Homo sapiens: one gene and its partner. The protein of the gene in region 2 purifies or fractionates together with the protein of the main gene of each other region. This does not show direct contact. Each region holds a gene or a part of one and is shown on either strand. Other genes may lie near its edges.

The links.
Region 1: the proteins of SPMIP6 (region 2) and ACTR10 purify together in Homo sapiens (affinity purification with mass spectrometry, with the first as the bait; one large-scale study listed by BioGRID). This does not show direct contact.

Annotation. Positions count from the first base shown.
Region 1 is NC_000014.9:58,230,856-58,233,676, reverse strand, and holds part of ACTR10 (actin-related protein 10), read right to left. Parts: intron 1,612-2,821; coding exon 1,410-1,611; intron 1-1,409. UniProt on the Homo sapiens protein: Part of the dynactin complex that activates the molecular motor dynein for ultra-processive transport along microtubules.
Region 2 is NC_000009.12:34,384,135-34,387,961, forward strand, and holds part of SPMIP6 (sperm microtubule inner protein 6), read right to left. Parts: intron 1,648-3,827; coding exon 1,503-1,647; intron 1-1,502. UniProt on the Homo sapiens protein: May participate in intramanchette transport and midpiece formation of the sperm tail. May play a potential role in somatic cell proliferation.

The DNA of each region.
Region 1 (2,821 bases), on a different chromosome or scaffold from region 2:
TTGAACAATGCAGGGATTAGGGGTGTGGACCCCCAAGCAGTTGAAAATCCATGTATAATTTTTGACTCCCCGAAAACTTAACTACCAATAGTCTACTGTTGACTGAGAAGTCTTACCAATAACATGAATAGTCGATTAACACATAAACAGCCCAGTATCTGTATATATATTTTTATACATTCATGATGTATCTTTTTCTTAATTTTTTTGATATTTCTAGGCTACATGGTTTGTCTATGTTTTTTCAAATTGTTGCAAATCTCCAAAATTTTTCTAGCATATTTCCTAAAAAACAGCATATGAGTGGACCCACATAATTCAAACCCATGTTGTTCAAGGGTCAACTGTACTTATTAGGTTAATTGCTTATTTCAGTGAAACCATCACTACTTAAAACATTTAATGAACTCAGTCACAAATATACTCATAAATTAAAGAGGCCAATTTTCATATGTGGCTCACTAGCTTTAGAAGACATTAAAATGAACATTTTAAGAAATGGTAAGCCAGGGGCGGTGGCTCACACCTGTAATCCCAGCACTTTGGGAGGCAGAGGCGGGCGGATCACCTGAGGTCAGGAGTTTGAGACCAGCCTGACCAACATGGAGAAACCCTGTCTCTACTAAAGATACAAAAAACTTAGCCAGGCGTGGTGGCGGGCGCCTATAATCCCAGCTACTAGGGAGGCTGAGGCAGGAGGATTGCTTGAGCCTGGGAGGCAGAGGTTGCGGTGAGCTGGGATCACGCTATAGCACTCCAGCTGGACGGGCAACAAAGATGAAACGTCTCAAAAAAAAAAAAAAAGAAAGAAAGAAATGGTAGCATCACTGGAATAAATTCATAGCTTTCACTATTTTGAGGGATGACTTTAACTAAATGAGAACGTTTACTTAATATCACGGTGCAAATGCCAAGAGAAATAGGTATAAAATTCTGAAAATTAATACAATTTAAGAAAAAGTCAGCTGGGCATGGTGGTTCATGCCTGTAATCCCAGCACTTTGGGAGGCCAAGGTGGGTGGATCACGAGGTCAAGAGATCGAGACCATCCTGGCCAACATGGTGAAACCCCGTCTCTACTAAAAATACAAAAATTAGCTGGGCGTGGTGGTGCACGCCTGCAGTCCCAGCTAGTCAGGAGGCTGAGGCAGCAGAATTGCTTGAACCCGGGAGGCGGAAGCTGCAGTGAGCCGAGATCGCACCACCACTGCACTCCAGCCTGGCGACAGAGTGAGACTCCGTCTCAAAAAAAAAAAAAAAAAAAAAAAAAAAGAAAAAGTCAGTGTTAGTTCTATTTATAAAGTGGGCAATTCTGAACCCTGAATTATTTATTCTAATATATCCATTAATAGTGTCATTCAGAGACCAAATACTATATAATCATTATATTTTAAAAGTGAAATTCTTACCTCCCAACCAGGCCACACAATTAGCTTTTGCAGGTGGAGTATGAATTCGAAATGTCTTAGTGCCAAGTGCTTTTTTATATTTTGGTTTTTCTACCAAATACCTTATTTCTGCAAGCAATCTGTGGAGAAATCCTGGCAACATAGAAGTGCCACCTATGACTACCAAATTCTCTGCTAGTTGCTTCCTGGTGTCTATCGGACACTGTTATTAAAAAGAAAAAAAGAAGGATTTATTCTGAACTGTACAAATAATGCTTGATTGAACTTAAGAAAATATACATAAATATACTATTATTATACATATTATTATTATACTACAGATTAAACAGGTGATCGTTTGTATCGCAAAAAGGGCCACAGCAAGGTTTCTTTCATGTAGCAAATATAACCACCATAAACATACTGCCAAATATATACATAAACTTTAAAGATTTTAAAATAGTTTAAAGTCTAAAAGCATAGAATTTTACATTCCATAGGGCATATGTGAGTGTTCTCACTGTCAGGGTAGCAATGATTAAGTAGGGCAAAGAGCATGAGAAGAAATAACTTCTCTTTTTTGGGATAAGTGAAATATGTAGAAATTTAATTTTTCTAAGGTGTATTCACAGTGCCAGTTGTTAAGTGGGAAGATAACACTCCTAGAAAAATTATGGTTCTACATCAGTTCTCTTTAAGAGTTAGCGATGATAAGGTCCTTCAATGAATGGAGCCCTAGAGGTAAACATATCTTCCAAGGCAATGGTATTTCATGCGAAGTCCTATAATTACATAGTCATTAAACGAAAGAGACATATTATTACCATATGTCCTGTGGAATTTAAAATTGAATACTATACAACCCTGAATTGGAAGGAACCACAAGCCACACTAGGTACAAAATAAAAATCTGGTCCCTGGTCTTAAAAGAATGCACATGTCACTGGGTTTGGTGGCTCACGCCTGTACAGCCCTTTGGGAGGCCGAGACAGGTGGATTACCTGAGGTCGGGAGTTCAAGACCAGCCTGACCAACATGGAGAAACCCCATCTCTACCAAAAATACAAAATTAGCCAGGCATGGTGGCACATGCCTGTAATCCCAGCTACTCGGGAAGCTGAGGCAGGATACTCACTTGAACCCGGGGGCGGAGGTTGTGCTGAGCTGAGATCATGCCATTGCACTCCAGCCTGGGCAACAAGAGCAACACTGTCAAAAAAAGAGAAAAAAAAGGCCAGGTGCGGTGGCTCACGCTTGTAATCCCAGCACTTTGGGAGGCCGAGGCGGGCGGATCACAAGGTCAGGAGTTCAAGACCAGCCTGGCCAACATGGCGAAACCCTGTCTCTAAATAATACAAAAATTAGCTGGGCAAGGTGGTGGGTGCCTGTAATCCCAGTTCCTCAGGAGGCTGAGGCAGGAGAATCACTTGAAC
Region 2 (3,827 bases):
TCGGGGATGGCAGTTTGCACATACTGAAACTGAGGTGTTTGGGGACATCCAGATCAAGATGACTATAAGCATATGAAGAAGAGTGGAATTCTGATGAGAGGACAAATCTGGAAATTAGGATTTGAAGCTGTCAGTAATTAAAGGCTTGTGTTAAATCAAATGGCCTTGGAGGAGGAGCAAGGGGAGAAGAGGGTGCAGGATAACACCCTGAGGAACCCCATGTTTCCACAGTGGATGCACAGGAAAGGGAGGCATCAGAGAAGCTGAGGAGGAAGTTGTTTCAAGAAGTAGAGTGTGGTCATAGCCTGTGTGCTGGAGGATTAACATACAAAACAACATCAACAACAAAACGAGTAGAGAGTGGTCAGAAGAGTGCAATTCATTGGTCTAGGAGGGTAAAGGTCTCAGAGGGTAAAGACTGCAGAGTCCTGTGGATTTGGTAATCAGAGCCATGCAAGAGCAATTTATTGTTTCATCATAGGAGATGCACATTCCCAACTTCCATTGGGAATTCTCAGTCCATTCAACAAAGACTTATGAAGCCTGGTGCTGTGCTCGATGGAGGGGCACAGCTGTGAATAAGACCAGACTCGGCTCTTTTCGAATGTACAGCCAGACAGATTATATTATATCCAAGCAAATGAGAAAGACAGTTTCTCATAAGGTATAAGAAAGGGTGAGGAAATAGAGACAGTGAGTATGGACCATGTTTCCGAGAACCTAGGCTGTTGAGAACAGGAGCAAGAGATAATTTTTAGTTGGGAAGAAACTAGAGAAGGTTCCAGGTTGAGGGAAAGAGGTGTGGTGGGGCAGAGGGATGCAGGAGAGGTGGAGGGAGCTGATGGGAGCAGGATGGCTGGGAAGATGGGAGGAGATGGTATCTGGAATGCACTTGGAGGGATCTGTCTGTGGGAGGTTAATCCTTTCTCCAACTCGCTAAGGATGGGACCCAGGGCCCTTCCAGGTTTTTTTTTCCACCGACAAGAACCCCAAAAAGCAGGGCCTAGGTCATCTCCTCCAGGGCCAGGGTCAGGTCAGGTGGTTGGTGGAGGGGGTGGTTAGGGAAGAAATCTAGGTCATGGGTGGAGATAAAGTTGACATAGAATCAGGATGGAGGCTGGGCATGGTGGCTCAGGCCTGTAATCCCAGCATTTTGGGAGGCCGAGGCGGGCAGATCACCTGAGGTCAGAAGTTCGAGACCAGCCTGGCCAACATGGTGAAACCCCATCTCTACTGAAAATACAAAAATTAGCCGGGCCTGGTGGCACATGCCTGTAGTCCCAGCTACTCAGGAGGCTAAGGTAGGAAAATCACTTGAACCTGGGAGGTGGAAGTGGGTTGCAGTGAGCCGAGATCATGCCATTGCACCCAGACTGGGCAACAAGAGCGAAACTCCGTCTCAAAAAAAAAAAAAAAAAAAAAAAAAGGATAGAGGTCACGATCCAGGTGGTTGGGTTCAGGTTGGGGGTCATTTTAGGGGTCAGCAAAGGGTGAGGCCTTACCTTCCTCTTGAGAAAGCCAGTACTTCTCAGGCAAGTAGGGGTGGCCTGATATGGACCCCCTATAAGTGTAGTCCTGTACAGCACATTTGGCCATCTTCTGCAGGGCTTCGGGATCCACATGTCGCTCCATGGTATGAGTCAGACCCTGGGCAAGGGGAGAGGAGAGAAGTGGTTAGGGGCACAGAGACCCCAGCCCTGGGGTCTTGCTGGAACTAGATCCAGCCTCTCTTGAGAAGGTCAGCCCAGGTGGGTCTCCCAACCCCCCTCCCCATGTCAGAGGGATTCCCATGCTAGCCTTGGCTCCTCTGCACAGTGCTCTTGTCTGAATTACCCTTTCCTCCTTTCTTTTCATCCAAGGCTAGGGCTTGGGGCCGAGCGGTGGCCTTACGTCAGAGTAGTTTTCTGACTTTCTCATTTCTGCCATTTCCTGGTGGGGAGCTCATGAAGGTCAGAGCTACATATACCTGTCCTTTTTCTCCTAGACTGTATGCTGCCTGGGAGCAGGGCTGGGTCTCTGCCAACAGTGCATCAGGCCCCAGTCTCAGAAAAGAGGGCTACCCTGGGAGCTGGCTGCCTTATGTAGGTGTCTTGGACAGGAAAGGCTCTCTGGGAATCTAGCATCTTAAAGAAAATGAAGGACAGTGCTGGAGGGGCACCTACTTTAAAATGTAATTCCCGGCTGGGCGTGGTGACTCACACCTGTAATCCTAGCCCTTTGGGAGGCCGAGGCAGGCGGATCACGAGATCAAGAGATGGAGACTATCCTGGCTAACATGGTGAAATCCCGTCTCTACTAAAAATACAAAAATTAGCTGGGCATGGTGGCGAGCTCCTATAGTCCCAGCTACTCGGGAGGCTGAGGCAGGAGAATCAACCCAGGAGGGAGAGGTTGCAGTGAGCTGAGATCGTGCCACTGCACTCCAGTCTGGCGACAGAGCAAGACTTCGTCTCAAAAAAAAAAAAAAAAAAAGTAATTTCCTGACTGCAACCTGGCCCTGATTCTGCTGTGGCTCTGGCCCTGACACCAGTGTTGCCTTTGACCCTGACCTTCAATTTGGCCTGGTCCTCACCCTACCTTGACACTTTTCCTGTTCTTGGTCCAGGCCCTGGGCCCCTGTGCTTTTTGGGGTTCACCTCAACTTACCCTGTCACTTCTTGTCTGACTAGATCTGTGACGCCTGGATCAGGGCCTCCCTTCGGGGCCCCTTTTTCCTCAGCTGAGGGCTGAATGACAAGTTAGTTGTAGACCCACAGGTATCTGCAGGCAGCTGGTCTGAAAAGGCAGCTGGGTCACAGGGGTGGGACACCCAGCAAAGTCAGATAGGGCTTCTTCCTCATAACGGGCAGTGAGGTGCTGGGACAGTGATGCTATCACCCACACTTGATCCTTATGATTTTTTTTTTTTTTTTTTTGAGACAAAGTCTCACTCTGCCACCCAGGCTGAAGTGCAGTGATACCATCATGGCTGAAGCCCTAACCTCCCAGGCTCAAGTGATCCTCCCGCCTCAGCCTCCCAGGCATGTGCACCACACCTGGTATTTTTCATAGAGATGGAGTTTCACCATGTTGCCCAGGCTGGTCTTGAACTCCTGGACTCAAGGGATCTTCCCACCTTGACTTCCCAAAGTGCTGGGATTACAGGCATGAGCCACCACACCTGGCCCTTCTCTTGGCCAAGGCTGAGACCTGGTTGCTCCAAGTGCTCCAACCATCCTCAAAACCTCTCTGCTCAGGGGCTTCTGGGATCAACTGTGCCCAGCTGACATTGTTCTGTGAGCAGCTCCTGCACAGTCACACTTCTACGTGGGTGGCGGGCAGAATATGGGAGATGTGGGTGCATGGGTCCCGTGACTCAGCATTTCTCCGAGCTTTACACACACACACACACCCCTGTGTACCCAGATACACCCATAGATGCACATATAGGTGTATATTCATACATACACACTCAGATACACCCACTTACACACTAAACACAGATACACACACACACAAACAAAACAGTCATTTAGAAGAATTCATAGACATCGTCAATTTTTCTGTTAGATGCTTTCCTCAGATGTTTCCTCTTTGTCTGCTCCTGTTGATAAGTAGGAGATTATAAAAGCTTATTGAAGGCTTTGAGCTGTGTGTAGGCTTTGTCCACCATCAGCATCACTGTAGGATGATCTCGTTGGACAATATTTTGCAAACTCTAATGTCAATATCTGTAGGTCTTTCCTCTTGGCTGATGAGATTCTTCAGAAAAGACTCCTTCAACCTTTGGCCTGAGGGTAATGACTTAGCTGCCAGTGTTCTGAGAATCTAGTGCTGAAGATTGCGCT